3 linked regions of the Homo sapiens genome follow. The protein of the gene in region 1 purifies or fractionates together with the protein of each later gene. This does not show direct contact. Each region holds a gene or a part of one and is shown on either strand. Other genes may lie near its edges. The genes, in order: PPP2R3A, EEA1 and FRMD4A.

Region 1 (2,492 bases):
ACATTAAAATTCTTACTAGATAGATATATTCCTTCCTCCCAGGAGTATTAGACTAGCTAATAGTAAAGGCCTCAACGTTATTCTTTACTTCATGTTGAAAACAATTACTACAGATATTTCATCCACCTCAGTATTTATCAAGGAAATGGAAAATGATACAGCTATAAAAGAAAGCTGTTATTTACTGTAGTTGTAGATGTATTCACTACAGAATCCTACATTTTTCAGCAGGCCACAGTCCAGCCAAATCCTATAATATCCTTGAAAAGAAACTATTAAAAAGGATAGACATTTCTGATGTAAGTAAAACCCCCAAGCAACTTAATATCCATCTGTCAGTCATCAACTTTTCCCCTAGATTTTTTTTTTAACTAGTTCTGAAAGTGTCAAGAATAGCTTCCCTTTCCACCCTACCTAGGTTCCCTCCTTGCTGGCATAAAGGCCAAGCAGTGAAATGAACCTTGGGTTAGAGTTATGGTAGGCAAAAAGAAAAGGAGAATTTAGGAAATAAATATGCTATAAACAAGGTACAGTACAGTGAGAGTTAACAATCCTAGGAATCCTGCCTGTCACAAGCTCCCAGTTCCCTGTCATTTTATCTTCATGATTAGAACTGATCTTCCATTTAACTATTACAGAAAGCAGTAACTATTGCAACTATCTAATAGTTCACACAAAAGAATTAAAAGCTTAAAAATAATTTTTAGGAAACACAATATTCAAAATCTAAACACACTGATAAATTATTAAGATTAAGATTATTTATGTGATAAATGAAATCTCCTACCAATCCATCCAGCCTTTACCAGGGAAGAAAAGCAATTATTTCATTTCAGATAGAAATACAAAAAAAAAAAAAATACTTTTCTTAGAAGCCAGATATGGTTTAAATGTTTTATTATCCATAATGATCTAAACTAATAAGATTCACCAAAAAGTAAAAATTCAATTTTACAATATACATTTTTTTTTTTAACTATTTGGCTTTACCTTTTTACCTTGGTTCTCCTTACTGAAGTCCTCTTGCTTTCACTTTGATCTGGTTTTTGAAGTCTCTTAATTATTGGCTGGGCATGGTGACTCATGCCTGTAATCCCGGCACTTTGGGAGGCCAAGGGAGGTGATCACTTGAGCCCAGGAGTAAAGACCAGCCTGGGCAACATAGTGAGACTCCGTCTCTACAAAAAATAAATTTAGCTGGGCATGGTGGTGCACATCTGTAGTCCTACCAACTTGGGAGGCTGAGGCAGGAGAATCGCTTGAGCCCCAGGCTTCGAGGCTGCAGTGAGCTATGATTACGACACTGCACTCCAGCCTAGGCGACAGAGCAAGACCCCATTCTCTTACAAAGTCTCTATTATAAAAGTACATCCATCAATACCATTCCATTTAAAATGGGCTATTGTAATTTACCCACATTATCACATTTTCAGGAATTATAAGAATGTGTTTTATTGTACTCCTTCCTTGGAGCTGAATGCAAGGAATGTGAATTCTGAGGAATTAAGGTAGAATATATTTGACTTTCTGGTAAAGATCATGGTTAAGTATAATCATTACTGCCAAACTGGAATTTTCAAGTTATTATAATATCCCAGGCCCCTTGATAAAAGCTGAGGGTTATCATGACCTTAATGCTAATTCAATGAGAAATGAGTTTAATAGCATAACATTACCAAGGTAATCAAACTAATAAAATTCCATATATCTTCCCTGCATCTTGTCACTGTGTACCATTCAAAGTGTTTATAAAACTCTAGATTCATCAAATGAGATTTGCTCAGCTTTTTGAAATGTTAAGATGTGTTTGGAGAAGGCTGCATGACTTTGTTTTTCCCTTTTAGCAAAACTAAATAAAGTTGTCAAATATGAATCATGTTCATTAAGGTAATTACTACACACTTGTGCTTTTAATCATATTTGCACCTCATTTTTTTGTCTGCAAGAGTAACACTGTAAACAAGCTTGAATGTCAGAGAATAACTCTTTGAGCCCATGTGAAAACTACAAAGAAAGGTCTTTGTAGTAATGACAATATACTGAGAAATGATTTCTTCAGGGGATAGGGAAGAGGACCAGGGTTTGTGAATGAGGCGGAGTTCACAGGAATCAAGGTAGACTTTAGCCTCATCTATAATGCATTATTTTAAAAGAATGTGTAACGGCATGTTTTGGGGTACCTAAATTTTATTTCAGAGGCAAGGTCTATGTTGCCCAGGCTGAGTTCGAACTCCTGAGCTTAAGTGATCCTCCCACCTCAGCCTCCTAAGTAGCTGAGATTACAGGCACACACCACTGTGCCTAGCTTTTAATTTTTTTAAAAAGAGAAAAGTATAAAATACCATACTTTGAACTTAGTATTTTCTAAAGCATTTCTGTTTTTTATCTATGATATGGTTATGGACAATTTATTTTTCATCTGATTCCCATAAAACTTTTACTCTTCTTCAACAAGGTCACCAATAAATTGTTTTAACTAAGAATACAATGAA
Region 2 (3,658 bases), on another chromosome or scaffold:
TTACCTCCTAAAAAATAGCTGGAAAAGATGTTAAAGCTTAATAGGTTCACAAGATATTATTCCTCCTTGATTTTTAAAGGTCCAAATGGAAAAGTCATTATACTAATATTATTTTACATTTTAATATAGTTAAAATCCCTGTTAAGCAACCTTAGAATTAAGACTTGATATATTTATTTACTATGCTGCTTAACTTTTTCAAAATTAATTACAAAATCATAAGACTATGTGAATCAAAGAAAGCAAAACAGAAATAGAGGCTTACATAGTCACTGTGACACTTCTTGTTTTTTTTTAAGTAACTAAGGGAAGAAATAAACAAGTCCACAATCATAGTTGGAAACTATAATATCTCTTTTTAGAAACTGATAGAACAACCAGAGGAACAAATTGGCAAGAATATAGACAATAAGAACAGCACTGTAATTGTTATTTATAGCCACTCCACCCAATAACACAGAGTACATATATGTGCACATGGAAAATTAATTATGATAAGCCATATGCTGGGCCTTAAATAAGACTTACTTTCAAAAGTTTGAATTTTACCAAGAATGTTCTCTGACCACAATAAAATTAAATTAGAAATTAGGGCCAGGCACGGTGGCTCACGCCTGTAATCCCAGCACTGTGGGAGGCCAAGGTGGGCGGATCACAAGGTCAGGAGATCGAGACCAACCTGGCTAACACAGTGAAACCCCCATCTCTACTAAAAACACAAAAATTAGCCAGGCATGATGGCAGGCACCTGTAATCCCAGCTACTCGTGAGGCTGAAGCAGGAGAATCGCTTGAACCCAGGTGGCAGAGGTTGCAGTGAGCCGAGATCACGCCACTGCATTCCAGCCTGGGCGACAGAGTGAGACTCTGTCTCAAAAAAAAAAAAAAAAAAAAAAATCAGTAACAATAATATACCTAGGAAAGCCTCAATATTTGGAAAGTAAACATACTTATAACCTACACATTAAAGAAGGAATCACAAAGGAAATCAGAAAATATATTAAACTGCAGAGGAATGAAAATACATTGTAAGATGGGAGGGAAACATTGGGTGTATAAATGTAAGGGGGCCCTCAAAAAGGGGAGCCCTGTATCCTGTTATTTGGGCTAAGCCCTGGGCTCATGGGTGGGGTTTAGTCAAAGTCTCTATATGTTTATCTGATATAAGAGCAGAAGGGACCCCAGCCCTCCTTGCCTAGGTAGTACTCCAGAAATGTGAGAAGACCTCAGAGGAGAAATGTATGTACAAAGTACATAGGCAAGAAAGATCTTAAAGGTTTTCCTACCCCAATAGGATGTGGGAGCCCTGTAAGTGAATTCTGAACCATGAGATTAGAACATAGAATGAAAATGGGTCCACTTCCATTGGGCCCATTGGAAACAGAAAGAACCATTGGGCCTGCAGAGTTTTTGAGGAACAGAACAAAAGCCATCTCGGAGATGATCTTCATGGACTGATGCCTGCATTCTAGAGATAATGATGAACCATTTGGTTGGTAATGTAATGGATCAGATATGCTCCTCAAATACCTAGGCACTGGAAACTACCGTGAGGAGGAATGCCACCTGAGGCACAAGATGCAATTCTATAACCTCCGATTCAAAGCATCAGGACCCAATTTACTAGATATGAAAATGAGAATATTTTCACCATCATATCCCCAAACAAGGATGAAAACCATGAAGGTGTGAAACAACTTAATCATCAACTCTGATGGGTTTTATTTCACCTTTCTGAAGAGGACTTTTCTCAGGTTCTTAGTCTCTACCTTTACTACTGGAACAGTCAAGAGCCCTCATCCCCTTGACACAAGTCAAGTCCATCAACTCAGTCAGAGCAGGTGATTTGATGTTTAAAGACAAAATGTACTCAAATGTAACCAGTTATATGAAGACATTCAAATGAATTGGGTGGAACTGATTTTTATCCATCAAAATAATGGTGAGTGATGTGTTCATTGAAGATCTCATCATGGCAGGACCCAAATTCAGCATCAACATCAAGGATAAGCTGGGCAAGAGACTAATTCTACCTTGGGAGTGAACGAATGATGCTGCAGCTAAGCACTTCTATGGCTATATATGTTCAGAAGCACATGCCCATTCTGCCACCAGAGACATTTGAAATTTCATATACTAATAAATCGTATAGGTCCCAATAACTTCTAAACCAATCCACCCTTATACTCAGAGCTGCCATGAATCCATTGAGCACTTTAGTGCAAATTAGAAAAAAGATACCCTCTTTCAAGATAATTTATTCCATCTGTGGCAAAACTGTCATAATACACTGATTTTATTAGAATAAGGCTACATACTACCATCTGCAGAAATCTTACATCTAGCATTGACAAGTGAAAAGTGGGTAACTGAAAAAAAGAAACAGATACTACAAAATGTAGACAGACACAGTGACGCTTTCACATTTAAAAGCTATTAAAAAAAAGCAAAGTAATAAGGTCTAAAGATGGAAACAATAAAGAGGAGAAATAAATAAGATAGAAAACTGACAAAATAAATCAAAAGCTTTTTACAATAGTCTGATAAAACTGATAAATCTCTAATTAAATTGATTTTTAAAAAGACAAATTAGCATGATTAAGAATAAAGGAGGAACACTACTACAGATCCTAACAGACCTTAAAAGTGTAATATTATGAACAACTGCCAATAAACTTGAAGTTTAGAGGAAATGAACCCATTTCTGAAAGACACAATGTACCAAAACTGACTCAAGAAAAAAAAATCAGGAAATTAGAATAGCTCTATGTCTATTAAATGAATTGAACCCCAAATGAAACAATCCAGAAAGAGAACTCTAAGCCTAGCCAGTTCACTAGTGAATTCCATCAAACTTTTAAGAAACAAATAATATCCATCTCATACAAACTATTTCAGAAAGGAGGAGGAAATACTTCTCAATTCCTTTTTAAGGCCAGTATAACTCTGATATCAAAACCTGACAATGATATTAAAAGAATACTACAGACCAATACCCCTCATAAATATATGAAACATTTTTAACAAAGTATTATCAAATCAAAAACAGCAATATACAAAAAGGTAATACAGCATGGTCAAGTTAATTTATCCCAGGAAAGCAAGGTTGGTTTAACAGTAAATCAATCAATGTAACTGACCATATTAACAGAATAAAACAGAAAATCCATATGATCACATCAACAGATACAGGAAAAAAGGTGATAAAATTCAATCCAAGCACGGTAATTTTTCTTTTTTAATAATTTTTTTTTTTTTGAGACGGAGTCTCGCTCTGTCGCCCAGGTTGGAGTGCAGTGGCACTGGAGTGCAGTGGCATGATCTCAGCTCACTGAAACTTCTGCCTCCCAGGTTCAAGCAATTCTCATGCCTCAGCCTCCCGAGTAGCTGAGATTACAGGCGTGTGCCACCATCCCCTGCTGATTTTTGTATTTTTAGTGGAGACGAGGTTTCACCCTGTTGGCCAGGCTGGTCTCGAACTCCTGACTTCAGATGATCTGCCTGCCTCAGCCTCCCAAATTTCTAGGATTACAGGCATGAGCCACAAGGCCGATAATTTTTTTTTTATATATAACTAGGTATCAAAGGTAATGTCTTCAATCTGATAAAGGGAATCTCAGAAAAACCTACAGCTAACCTCAAACTTAATGATGAAACAT
Region 3 (3,658 bases), on another chromosome or scaffold:
TGTTTACCATTTCTCTTCTCCTCAGTGTCCCTCTCTGAGTGGTAAGAGTATGTTAATAAGCCAGTGCTGAGACCGGAGCACGAGGCAACTGCTCAATGTTGGTCATTGTCACTGTTATTAAATGTAACTTAAGGGAATGAGTGGTTTCTTCCTTTTTTTTTTGTTTTTTACTTGATTCAATACCGCCCAATGCTCTTGAGTATGAGAATATAAGGTAAACTTTATAGAAATTTTCAGATATAACGTCAAGGATATTTAAGACACTTAAATAATAGTTTGTGGCTATGGCATAACATCATCATCGAAATGGGAAAGCCAGGAGCAGCCAGGAATTCTGTCAAACGCACAGCTCTGGCACTGTTTATTAGCCAGTCTGCCCCCATCTGGGGAGACACTGGCCAAATCTCTAGGCTTGACCCAAGCCCATCCCCAACCCAGCTTCCTTTGCAAGCTACAGCTGTGGGCTTTCACTGGGATACTCTCCTCACTAGGGTAAAAGACACCTTTGGTTGGATAAACCCAGAGACATTACTTTTACTTTACCTAACTAACTTTCTTAGATTTCTGTCTTTACAAGGAGAAATGGGAGAGCTGGCCCAGTGCACTCTGGAGGGTCAGGTGCACGGTTATGGTGCAAGATTAGGGTTAGAACGGGGCGGGGTCAACAAAGGCCTGGAAGACCTCAAGTCTCCCGCATCTAACAGCAGCGTTCCCAGAATTAATTAATGATTCCCGTTCCTCACTGCACCCAGTCCTAAGGGTACCTTCCCCGCGGTAGCCCTTGACACCGGCAAGCAGTTCGCCCTCAGGTCTTCCCGCGTGCACCTGGCCGCCCCCTCTCACCTGACGTGGCCTTGCACATCTGGGGCATCCTGGTGACCCTGCTGTGCGCCACGAAGGTGCTCTGGGAGGAGGTGCTGTACTGCGAGCCGCTGTCCGAGGAGGTGGAGCTGGTGTGCGACAGGCGGCTGTGCTCCTTGTGCGAGGCGGTGGAACGCTGGTACCACTGGCGCAGCTCGTCTGAGACGGCGGCACGGCCCGCGCCCTTGTCGTGGGCGCCCTCGCGGCCCAGCGACGGAGTCCGCAGGATCTGCGATCGCGACGGCGTCAGGCGGCCCGTGTCGCCCTCGTCGCCGCCGCCGCCGCGCCAGCTCTCCTTGAACAGGCCGCCCGCCGTGTAGGAGTTGGACGTCTTGAACTGAGCCTTGACGCTGTAGTGGCCCTCCTGGTCGCTCTCCAGGCTGCGCACCACCACGGGCGTGGCGCCGCCCTCGATGTACAGCGGGTACTCCTTGATGCGGTACTGCGAGCTGGGCTGGCTCTGGCTGTGCAGGTACACACCGCCCCCCGCGCCCCCCGCGCCCCCCGCACCCCCGCGCGCCGCCAGGTTGGGCATGCTGCCCGAGCTGGCTGAGCCCAGTGCGCCCGCCGCCCGCTGCCGCTGCCTCTGCCTCTGGCGCGCCTTGGACGGCGAGTCCTCGGCCAGCGTGGAGTAGTTGGCGTTCATCTGCGCCGGGTAGTAGTGCTCCGAGCTCGAGTGGCTGGTGCACGACGAGCAGTCGTCCATGGGGTCTGAGCCGTTGCTGCTACGAGTCCGCGGGGTGTAGAAGTCGGGGCTCCCGGTGTCGTTTTCCGAGCCCAGGAGCTTGCCCTGGGACTCCAGGCTGGAGCTCCGGTGCCTAAAGTGCAGTGCGAGGCTGTGCAGTCGGGTGGGGCTGATGTCCACCGACCTGCCGGGAGACGACCCGGGTTGGTCTGGGGGTGGGGAGTGGGCCCAAGGAGGGGTGCTCCGGGGAGGAGGGGGTCCTGAGGAGGGCACTGGGTGTCTGCACGCGGGCGCAGGCCCCAGCCCAGCAAGCCAGAGTCTCACTCAGCAGGGCTGCCCCAGGGATCCGGGAACTGCCCATTGCGGGAGGTGAACCTGGGGTCTCCACCATGATTCCCAGTGGGAAGTGGGACTGAAGCTAGGACTCACAGAAAGGTTTCGATTTCTGGGTTTTTTTTTTTTTTTAAATAATTCTATAGACACAAAGAGAATCACAGAATCCTTAGTATCATGTTAAACCAGATAGGGCTGGGCACTGTGGTCCACGCCTGTAATCCCAGTGCTTCAGGAGGCTGAAGAATTGCTTGAGCCTGGGAATTTGAGACCATCCTGTGCAACACTGTAAGACCTCATCTCTTACAAATAAATTAGAAAATTAGCTGGGTGTAGTGTTGTACACCAGGGGTCCCAGCTAGTCAGGAGGTTGAAGAGGGAGGATCACTTGAGGATGCAGTAAGCTATGATCAAACCACTGCACTCCAGCCTGGGCAACAGGGCAAGACCCTGTCTCTCTTAAAAAAAAAAAAAAAAAAAAAAAAAGAAAACACAAACCAGATGAAATGTCCCTATTTACAGATCAGATAAAAGCAGTCCTACAGAGGCCCTTCATATTGTTTAACCAAATACTATTACATGATCCATATAAATAGACTCCCCTTTCCTGTGAAAACTGGGAAATAGAAGGTTGGTGGCAAATGAGATAATTAAACAATGAATGATGCAAATACTCACCATACCATTACTTTATAATTCATTCTGCTCGTTTGAGTCCACTCAGGGCTTAGGGAAGTGCAAAACAGTATCACATGGCAGATGATGTTGCCCGATGCTGGGACTGCATGTGAACTTCACAGCGGCCCCACGGGCCAAGCACAGGAAGAGGCGAGTCCCACTTCCGACTGCCACTCAGAAGGGGGATGAAAGCCCCCATCACGTGGCCCTCCGTGATCTGGTTTGCTTCTTTTTAGAAAAAGAAGGTGTGGCTAGGAGCGGTGGCTCACGTCTCTAATCCCAGCACTTTGGGAGGCCAAGGTGGGTGGATCACCTGAGGTCAGGAGTTCCAGACCAGCCTGGCCAACATGGTGAAACCCCGTCTCTACTAAAAAATACAAAAATTAGCCAGGCGTGGTGGTAGGTGCCTGTAATCCCACCTACTTGGGAGGCTGAGGCAGGAGAATCGCTTGAACACGGGAGGCAGAGGTTGCAGCGAGCCAAGATCGCGCCACTGTACTCCAGCCTGGGTGACAGAGCAAGACTCCATCTCAAAAAAAAAAAAAAAAAAAGAAACAGAAGGTGTGATTCACTGAAGCCTCATTTTTGCCTGGCTCTTTTGCTCTTTATGAATTTACATTTTGAGGCACTAAAGGAAGTCCAGTATAAATTTAGGCCTCAGTAGAAAGATAGAAGACCTCTTCCCATGCTAACCCAGCCAGCCTCTGTGGCCTCTGCTTTGCTTAGGAAACTTTCCATGCTCCCTGTCTCCAGAAGCCCGGGGATTCTTTGGCTGACTCCAAGTGCCCTGTGCATGGGTCTCTTGGCTAACGGGGGTTGACTGCTGCCAGCTTGGTTTTTTATTCCGCTTCATTTATCCTCCCAGGTTCAGGTCTGACTGTAGCTCATCCATTATTTGGGCCAGCTTGGGGCTGACAATGCCCAATTTTAAAAAGGAAGGCTTGGTCTGAGCAGGAAGGCCAGGCAGACTCACCTCGTGGAATGGACGTAGTGGGGACTCCGGACCCGCAGGTCTGGCGTGGACGGCATGCTGGACTGGGAGTTCCAGTGCGGGAGGCCGCGGATGGGGCTGTTCTGCAAGGAGTTGCTTCCTCCGCCGGC

What was found.
Region 2: the proteins of PPP2R3A (region 1) and EEA1 purify together in Homo sapiens (co-immunoprecipitation; one large-scale study listed by IntAct). This does not show direct contact.
Region 3: the proteins of PPP2R3A (region 1) and FRMD4A purify together in Homo sapiens (co-immunoprecipitation; one large-scale study listed by IntAct). This does not show direct contact.

The regions. Positions count from the first base shown.
Region 1 is NC_000003.12:136,146,022-136,148,513, forward strand, and holds the end of PPP2R3A (serine/threonine-protein phosphatase 2A regulatory subunit B'' subunit alpha), read left to right. Parts: 3' UTR 1-1,873; downstream 1,874-2,492. UniProt on the Homo sapiens protein: The B regulatory subunit might modulate substrate selectivity and catalytic activity, and might also direct the localization of the catalytic enzyme to a particular subcellular compartment.
Region 2 is NC_000012.12:92,803,699-92,807,356, forward strand, and holds part of EEA1 (early endosome antigen 1), read right to left. Parts: intron 1-3,658. UniProt on the Homo sapiens protein: Binds phospholipid vesicles containing phosphatidylinositol 3-phosphate and participates in endosomal trafficking.
Region 3 is NC_000010.11:13,655,793-13,659,450, forward strand, and holds part of FRMD4A (FERM domain-containing protein 4A), read right to left. Parts: coding exon 3,531-3,658; intron 1,731-3,530; coding exon 844-1,730; intron 138-843; exon of another isoform or gene 1-137. UniProt on the Homo sapiens protein: Scaffolding protein that regulates epithelial cell polarity by connecting ARF6 activation with the PAR3 complex. Plays a redundant role with FRMD4B in epithelial polarization. May regulate MAPT secretion by activating ARF6-signaling.